Linked DNA regions of Homo sapiens: region 2 is linked to region 1. Evidence: fine-mapped expression QTL. Tissue or cell type: whole blood. Region 1 holds a variant in brackets; the other region holds the start of a gene. All regions are shown on one strand. Distances are from middle to middle.

Region 1 (5,340 bases):
TCTGTATCTAGCTAATCTAGTGGGGAGGTGGAGACCTTTTATGTCTAGCTCAGGGATTGTAACCGCACCAATCAGCACCCTGTCAAAACGGACAAATCAGCTCTCTGTAAAACAGACCAATCGGCTTTCTGTAAAATGGACCAATCAGCAGGGTGTGGGTGGGGCCAGATAAGAGCATAAAAGCGGGCTGCCTTAAAAAAAACGGTGGCAACACGCTGGGTTTGCTTTACAACGCTTGGGAAGCTTTGTTGTTTGCAATAAATTTTAATACTTGTCTGTTTCGGTCTGCACTGCCTTTATGAGCTGTAACACTCACAGGGTAGGTTTGCAGCTTCACTCCTGAAGCCAGTAAGACAACGAACCCACTGGGAGAAACAAACAACTCCAGACGCGCCGACTTAAGAGCTGTAATACTCGCTGTGACGGTCTGCAGCTTCACTCCTGAGCCAGCGAGACCACGAACCCACCAGAAGGAAGAAACTCCGAACACATCTGAACATCAGAAGGAACAGACTCCGGACACGCCGCCTTTAAGAACTGTAACACTCACCGCGAGGGTGGGCGGTTTCATTCCTGAAGTCAGTGAGACCAAGAACCAACCAATTCCGGACACACTTGGACTCGACAGACTCTAAGGTGAAAGATTGGTTTAGTTCATGAGTTGGGGTTTTGTGATAACTGACATTGTGAAAAACGGGGGATTTAACATAGATTTTCACAGTGGCTTTAGACATTTCATAAATATTTCTTAAATGCCTCCTAAATGCTAGGATTTGGCAATACAAGGCTAAACAAAATACAAAGCCAAATCCTACTGTAATGGGAGTATGTAAAGTGTTTCTGTTAATGGAAAAAGTGCTGTGTGAGGATGGGGGTTAAGTGACTGGACTGTTTGTGTTCTGAGCTTTCTAGGACTGATCTGATTACGCTGTAAACACTCCGCCAGATACTGTGTAGGCCCAGCCCTTGTGCTTGAGGGGGCCACTGTGAGGTGGCGAAACAGACAAGAGATTATTAGAATACAGAAAGTTCAGGTTGGGAGGAACCACTGAACATGGTAGAAGTACTGAGGTCTGTGAAAGTAAAGATCAGCCCAATGAACACAAACAAATAAGGTTCTTGATTCGGAGCTTGCTGTAGTAAGGGAGTTTTGTACTTAGTGGACACTCCGAGGCAGGCAGGGGAGTGGGAAGCTTTACGGTGGAAAAGGGGAAGGCTGCAGCAGTGCTCTGATTGGAGGCTTCTGGCCTGGGGAAGTTGGAAGCAGCTGATAGAGGTAGGTGTCTTCAGTGATTGGTTTGAGGAGCCTATTTGTTTTTCTGTGGTTGATTCTGAGTTGCAAGAGTCCTGACCATTTGGGGCTGATTGCTGCTGAGGTTGTGGTTTTCTTGCAGGACAGGCAAGCCCCAAATTGGGCCTTAGCCCATGAGGGTTCCTGGCTTTACCCAGGAAAGAATTCAAGGGTGAGCCAGTGGTAAGGTGGAAGAAAACAACTTCATTAAAGAGGCAGTGTGACAGCTCCGTGACTTTTCCTGCAGAGTAGGGCTGCTCCGCAGGCAGTGTGCTGAAAGCAGCTCAGGGCAGTTGTGCAGTCAGATCTATATCTACTTTTAATTGCACGCAGATTAAAGGACAGTTTCTGAAGACATCTGTAGGAAAAGGGTAGTAACTTCTGGGTTGTTGGGTCATTGCCATGGAAAGGGGTGGTAAATCCTGGGTGTTGCGATGGCAATGGTAAACTGACATGGCAAACTGGTGGGCGTGTCTTAAGGACGGCTGCTTCGGCCCCTCCCTGTTTTAGCTAGTCCTCAATTTGGTCGGCTGTCTGAACCCCACCTCTGGAGTCGAATCTCGCCTTCTATCTCATTTTGAGTTCCTTGGACTGCCTGCAGCAGCGGTTGTTTAAGCCAT[G/A]GTTCTGTTATATAGTGTCTGGCTGTTATCCATTCGTATGTTCAGCTTCCAAGTGGACACCTAAGTCAGACTGAGGGAGCTGGATTAGGGGCTCTCTAACAAATAGCACCATCACATAACATGTCTGTTTCTTCCTCTGCATTGTAAGCTCCTTGGGTGTGGAACCTTATCTTACTCATCTTTGTTTTTTCCCATGTCTCCTGCCACATTGTAGATGTTCAGCCAATGTTTGTTGCATTTAAAGAACAGATAATCACAGCTACTAGGGAAGCTGAGATGGGAAGATCCTTAATCCTAGGAGTTTGAGCCAGCCTGGACAACATAAGACCCTGTCTGTCTCTCACACACACTCAAAAAAAAAAAAAAAAAAAAAAGAAACAAACAAAAAAAACGGTGGGGGAGGGGAACAGATAAAGGAGAGGCCAGGAAACACCAGAAAAGGATTCCTGAAGCAGATTCCACCTGAGCTGTAATGGAGGCGTGGCAGGTGGCTAGGCAAGGAGCAGGAAGCCTATTCCAGGCAGGTGAATTGCTTGGGCCAAGGCCGGATGTGAAGTACTGTAGCCTGTTCGGGGGACAATAAGTGCTGCTAGGACTGGATCAGGGTGTGAAAGTAGTACAAGAATGGGTGGACAGGAGGCTGAAATCCCAACAAAGGATGTAGATGCCAAATGGCAAGGACGTTTTTATTCTATGCCAGAAGGCTTGATTTCCTTTAAATCAATCCATTGATTCGAAGACATTTCATTGGAGGAATTTAAAATGGAAGGATTATAATCAAGTGTGTGTTTTTATTTTTTATTTTTTTGAGACGGAGTCTCACTTTGTTGCCCAGGCTGCAGTGTGGTGTGGTGATCTCGGCTCGTGGGTTCAAGCGATTCTCCAGCCTCAGCCTCCCGAGTAACTGGGATTACAGGCACCCACAACCACGCTCAGCTAATTTTGGTATTTTTAGTAGAGACGGGGTTTCACCATGTTAGCCAGGCTGGTCTCAAAGTCCTGACCTCAAGTGATCCGCCTGCATTGGTCTTCCCAAGTGCTGGGATTACAGGTGTGAGCCACTGCACCCAGCCCAGTGTGTGTTTTAGACGAATAACTCTACCTGCCATATGGGAAAGGACAGGGGAAGTCAACTTCAACATGGTTTGGGAAAGAAGATGTGGCTTAAACCAAGATGGAGCAGAGAGGAGAGATTAAAATGAAAGGTATTTGTTTTCTTGGACTCCACAGGACTTGATGAATGATTTTGAAGGGGTGGATATAAGGAGAGAAAGGGCGTTATCAATGACACCTGGATTTTGTGATTACAAAACTGAGAGGCTGTTAACGCTATCCACAGGAGAAGCAGATTTAATGGAAGAGAGATTTAAAGAATGGGCACGTTAACTAACTTTGCATTGTTTAGGCACCATCGTGTCCTATACGCAGCTCAATTCAATAAATACTCATTGAGCACCCAATAAATATTCATTGAGCCAGTATGTGCTGGGCACTATTCCAGATGGTTGAGGGGACATTAGTGAGCAAAACAAAGGTGTGTCGTCACTGAGCTTAGATTTCTAGTGTTGACTTAAAAAATATGATTTATCAATTTAGAAAGGGAGAAGAGCCTTTATTTCTTCTAAAGGGTTACAGCATGCTTCCAGCTTAGACCACAGACGGGCACTTTGAAGGAAAAGGCGTTTGAGGTAGGAGCTTTATGCTGACTGGGTTGGCTAAACGTACATATTTAACAGATTACAAGAGGAGCTACGAATATTTATGATGGCGGACCTGACACATTGAACAAACATGTATGTAATATATGACCCATATTCACTTTGGGATAGAGACTCAACATGTGAATGCATTACAATTACACCCTATAGGTCAAAAGGTCTTTTTAGGACAGGAAGGCGCCTTGAGTGTACAGTTTCTGTAAACTGGCCAGACCAGTCCACGGTCGGCGGTCTTATCAGGAGAAAGTTACTGAGATCAATCTCTTGACCAGTCAAAGCTGTAGTTATGGCTGGTGGAACAGGGGTTCAATTAGTCACTGTCTGGTGGAGCTGCAGGTGTTTTACTATTGCTTATCTCAAGGCCAGCGTTTAGCTGCTGGAGAAAAAGAAGAGCCCTGTGGCAGTTAGAGCTTAGTTGATTCTTCAAGTGTAGGGGTGCCTGACTTCACCATTGCCTGCATGGCCTTAGGTCCTGTTTATAATTGGGTATCTTATTGCCACAGAGTCTGTTCCGTTAGTCTTATGATCTCTGTTTTAATGTTAATGCCAGCCAGTTGTGTATGAACTCCAAAAGGAAGGGGGTACAATGAGGGCTATCTGATCTCCTGTCCCGTTATTTGAAATGCTTTTTCCCTGGTGCTGGAAAGAAATAGCACTTGTAGGCTGGGAGCCGTGGCTCACGCCTGTAATCCCAGTACCTGGGGAGGCTGAGGCGGGCGGATCACGAGGTCAAGAGATTGAGACCATCCTAACCAACATGGTGAAACCCTGTCTCAACTAAAAATAAAAAAATTAGCTGGCCGTGGTGGTACATGCCTGTAGTTCCAGCTACTCGGGAGGCTAAGGCAGGAGACTCACTTGAACCTGGGAGCCAGAGGTTGCAGTGAACCAAGATCGCGCCACTGCACTCCAGCCTCACGACAGAGTGAGACTCCATTTAAAAAAAAAAAAAAAATGAAGAAGAAATAGCACTCGAAGGCTGGGCGCAGTGGCTTGCCTGTAATCCTAGCACTTTGGGAGGCCGAGGAGGGTGGATCATGAGGTCAGGAGTTCAAGACCAGTCTGGCCAACATGGTGAAACCCTGTCTCTACTAAAAATCGAAAAATTACCCAGGCGTGGTGGTTGGGCGCCTGTAATCCCAGCTACTCGGGAGGCTGAGGCAGGAGAAGCACTTGAACCCAGAAGGCAGAGGTGGCAGTGAACCGAGACTGTGCCACTGCACTCCAGCCTGGCAACAAGAGTGAAATTCTGTCTCAAAAAAAAAAAAAAAAAAAAAAAAAAAAAAAAGGCGCTTGAACATTAATTTACTAAGCAGGCCATTTTTACTTCCTGCAGAAAGGGTACACTCGCCAGCAGTTTTGCCATGGGAGTATACCAAACAAAGGAGACAGGGTCATTTATAACCTGACTCGTCCACCCCACTGCTTGTGTCTAGTTTCCATTGGCTGGAACGGTGCCTCACGTTCTGTATTTGTCCCGATTGGCTAGCAACTTAGAAGTTTTTAAAAGAGGCAAAGGTAGAGGAGAACAAAGGAAGGAGGAAGTAACTTGTGGAATGGTGACAAAGGTTGAAACACCTTCAAATAAGGAAGAGGAACAGGCTATGACCTAATGCTTTCTTGGACCACTATAAGCATGCCAGGGCAAATATTTAGGCTAAATTGTGAGAGCTAAGAACATGAAGTACATTGATTTCTTTATCATAGCTAG
Region 2 (4,000 bases), 28 kb before region 1:
CTGGGCATGCTTGTGCGTGCCTGTAATCCCAGGTACTTGGGAGGCTGAGGCGGGAGAATCCCTTGAACCCAGGAGGCAGAGGTTGCAGTTAGCTGGGATCGTGCCTGGGTTGCACTCCAGCCTGGGCAACAAGAGTGAAACTATGTCACGGAAAACAAAACAAAACAAAAATGTGGCCCCTAGACCACAGCATCAGCGTCACCCAGCAGCTTGCTGGAAAGGCAACATCTTGGGCCCTGGTATAGACCTTAGAATCTGCATTTAAACAAGGTTCCCAGGGGATTCATAGGTACATTGAAGTTTGAGAAGCGTGGCTTTGTGATATTTCTATAATACCATTTAATAGATATCCCATTTAATGAATGAAGTCAGAGATACTGTGACTTGCTTGTATCCCCACAACTAATAATGAAGCAATATATGCAAAGAGCTCACAACAGTGTTTTGCACATAGTACGCGCTCAATAAACAATAACAATCAATGACAGAGCCAAGCTGTGAACCATGAGATTTTCAATTGCATAGCCCCTTAGCCTCAGAAGAACCCCTTTAGGCACCAGGCATTCATTCCACCAGGTAAGGCGAGGACTGTGGCTACGGCTTCCCTCCCGGCTCAGCCACTCTACAGAAAGAGAAACTAGGGGGCCCAGAAGCTACCATTGTGGTGAGCCTGATCCTATAGCAGGGGCATCCTGGGGGTGGGGGGGTCGTTATTCTCCAGAAAAGGCCGGACATAGAAAGAGGGGGACCAGAGGCTCTTCAAGGGATGCCTCCTGCAAACCCCATGCCCTCCAACCTCATCCCCTCTGCCTCCAGATGCCTTTCTAGATGAGGACCCTATACCCTAGGCCTCCCCAGGCCTCCCTCTCCTCACCTCCTGCCCTAGCCTGTTCAGTAGGTGACCACTGTGGGAAGGCCACTTGTAACCTCCCTCTCAATCAGTAGGACACAACCATGTCTCTGACGGTGGGCTGGGCTTGTTTCCCTGTGCTGACCAAGTCCTTCCCCAGGGACCCCTCAGCTAGGGTCCATGGTGACTTCACCCCAGCCTATTTCCTGAACACCTGCTGGGGAGTTCCCCAGACTTTCCTCCCAACTTCCTGGAAAGTGCTGGCTCCCCATCCTCCTTCGAGAACTAAAGACAAGAAAACATATGTATCTTTAAACAGCCTATTGTTTTATCTCTTTTATTCTATGAAATAAAAAATTTAATACACAAATACTTTAAGCAAAATTTGCTTATAGTAAAAATTCAAGTAATAAAATTCAAATAATAGAAAGCAAAAAAATCCCACCCGTTCAACATTTCACGAGTCTTGAACACCTGTTTCCTTTGCACCCGACTTCATTAGGCTCGGAGGCCAAGCAGAACCCACAGAAAGGCTTGCCATTGTGGGAACACCCAGGCTGTCCCATTCACACACCCATTGACTTTTCCCTATAACTGTCTCCTTGAGACAAGAAATGTTCCAAAAGGGCCGGGTGCGGTGGCTCACGCCTGTAATCCCACCACTTTGGGAGGCCGAGGAGGGCGGCTCACCTGAGATCAGGAGTTCAAGACCAGCCTGGCCAACATGGTGAAACCCGGTCTCTACTAAAAATACAAAAATTAGCCGGGCGCCAGTAATCCCAGCTACTCGGGAGGCTGAGGCAGGAGAATGGCTTAAGCCCAGGAGGCGGAGGTTGCAGTGAGCCGAGATCGCGCCACTGCACTCCAGCCTGGGTGACACAGCGAGACTATCTCCCCCCGCAAAAAAAAAAAGTTTCCAAGAGCGTCTCTCCAATGTTAGTCCCAGCCTGCACCCTTCTTCCATCCCTGCTTTCACTCGCGACCCTCTAATGCAGCCCTGCCTCCAGCGACCCCCGGGATGGAACCCCTCGCCCACCCACAAAAGAGCAGCCTCGACCTAGACCCACTTTCCAGGGAATGAGCCCTGCGCCTGCGCGCACCCCGCCACCCCCTCCAGGCCGGAGTCCACGCCCACTTGGGGGAGGAGCCCCGCAGCCTCCACCTACAGGGGCGTCCCCTAAGGGGACGGAGGCCGCATGGGCCGCCGAGCCGGGAAATCTCCGCCCCCAGCTGGAGCGGCTGTGCGGGCTGCGTAGCGGTGCTGGGTCGGGCCGACGTGCCACCCACCCGGAGCCGGTGAGTGCAGCCGCCCGCCCTCCGGTAGATCTGCGGCCTGGCGGAGAAGTCGGGAGGGGACAGGAAGGGAGGGCGGGCCCCGGGCCCTCCTCCGTCTCAGCCGCCTGCGGAGGTGCTGCCCACGCCTGGAGGCCCCCACTGACCCTCAGACCCGCGTCTGCGCCCCTCTCCCCGCACCCCGAGGCAGAGTTGGGAAAGCAGTGGTCTTAGACCCCCCACCTCGGGCACTCGGAAGAGAACGGCGGAGACAACCCCTCCTCTTCCCTGGCTGGCGCAGCGCCAGCCTCGAGCTCCTCGGTAGCCCCCGGGCAGGGAGGGCCGGAGGGTGGGCGCGGCATCTTCAGCGACTCTTCGAAGTCCCTTCCGCGTCTCATCTTTCAAGGCTGTTGCAGAGGCGGCTTGCTTCCCACCTGTCCATCTCCATAAAAATCCCTAAACGAAACATGCCCACGTGTCCGGAGATTTTCAGGACTTGGTGCATTTCAGATGAAGGCTTTTCCAGAAGCTTCCCCGTAGAAGAGGATCAGGCATCCAACTGGTTAAGGTCAGCAGCGTTTGGCACGTCTCCTTCCAGCCTGGCGGTTTTGTCAGGATTCCCTGGGGAGTGTCTGGAAAGCCTGATGAGGGGAAATAGTACATCTCAGCGAATCGGCACCAGCGAGTGTAAGATGCGCGTTATTGAATGTGCTGCTGCCGAATATGAGAATGCCGAGATTGTGAGCCGTCACCATTTCTTAGATTTTAAAAGTATTCTAAAATGTTTTTTAGAATCACTGAAATATAATAGCTACCCCCTGCCCGATATCTACTTAGTTCTTTTCGATTTTCATCATAACTTATAGAGAGGCTGGTGCAGGAACAGGTGGTTAGGCAGCTGCCCCGGGTGAGGCTGGGAGTCTCCTCTGCCCGAACAGCCCGGGTGTACACCACTCAGACTGCCTCATGTAGGCGGCTGTCAGTGGACTGGGATGATTTGGGGGCAGGGAGAGTAGAGGTGGCCCTGGGAGCCCTGCGTGGTGATTAGAACAGAACCACAGCTGTTTCTCGGGGATCAGAGATAACTGTCTGTAGCTATGCCGGGCTTACCTACGTGGCTGGGGGTCTCACTTATGATTCTGAGCTCTGTCTGCGTGTTGGTCGTTTCATGCACACCTCCCCCACGCTAGTGGTCGGCGGTCCTGGAGGGCGGCATCTGGTCCCTTCAAAAGTGGGAAATAAGTCGGCAGCAGTGGGTCAGAATGGCTGTTTTTTGAGAGCGGGAGCAGGGGGACAGAGAAAGTCAGGAGGTGTTAGAGGTTCACAGTCCAGGCAAAAAGTAACAAAGGCCAGCTCCTGGTGTGGCAGGTGCCGCTCAGGAATAAAGTGGATGGTGCCCATGATGTGCTGCCTAGCACACTGTTGGTGCTTAATAAGTGTTTGCTGCATGAAGAAAGGTAAGAGGGGCTGCCTTTCCTGCTACGTTTCCCACACCCTGCCACAGCTGCTCTTCTCTATGATCTGACCGCCTCCCAGCCACACTCCCTTTTTGGCCATGCTTGCTCTTAAAGTTAGTTGGCAGCAAAAATGGCGGCATGGAGGATGCTTGGCACCTGTTAAAGATGCTAGAGATAAATGAGCTAAGTCGGTGGCCTCTTTTGCCCATTTCTGCCCACAGGGATGCCAGAAGGGCCGTTGGTGAGGAAATTTCACCATTTGGTCTCCCCCTTTGTGGGTCAGCAGGTGGTCAAGACAGGGGGCAGCAGTAAGAAGCTACAGCCCGCCAGCCTGCAGTCTCTGTGGCTCCAGGACACCCAGGTGAGGTAATACTCCTCTGAAGGGTTGGCTCTGTCGCCCATCCTGCGCCTCCCCTAGGAT

Evidence for each region. PIP is the estimated chance that this variant, and not a neighbour inherited with it, causes the effect.
Region 2: NEIL2 starts here. The variant in region 1 is fine-mapped to the expression of NEIL2 in whole blood (INTERVAL, PIP 0.90).

The regions. Positions count from the first base shown.
Region 1 is chr8:11,795,376-11,800,715 of GRCh38, forward strand. The region is part of intron 1 of LOC105379243 (a long non-coding RNA gene); the gene reads right to left. It also overlaps a transcript of FDFT1 not described here. Among named protein-coding and RNA genes, the nearest start is that of FDFT1, 4.7 kb to the right of the region's middle. RefSeq lists enhancers at 1-159, 4,640-5,283 and a silencer at 4,928-4,987. The variant G/A (reference allele first, on the strand shown) is at 1,912.
Region 2 is chr8:11,767,646-11,771,645 of GRCh38, forward strand. NEIL2 (nei like DNA glycosylase 2) reads left to right here and starts at 2,065. Exons shown (of 5, transcript NM_145043.4): 1 at 2,065-2,690; 2 at 3,801-3,940. The coding sequence starts at 3,803. It overlaps LOC124901888 (a long non-coding RNA gene), which reads right to left and starts at 3,805. Exons shown (of 2, transcript XR_007060824.1): 1 at 3,233-3,805; 2 at 1,157-2,763. RefSeq lists silencers at 1,876-2,285, 2,326-2,455 and an enhancer at 2,215-2,715.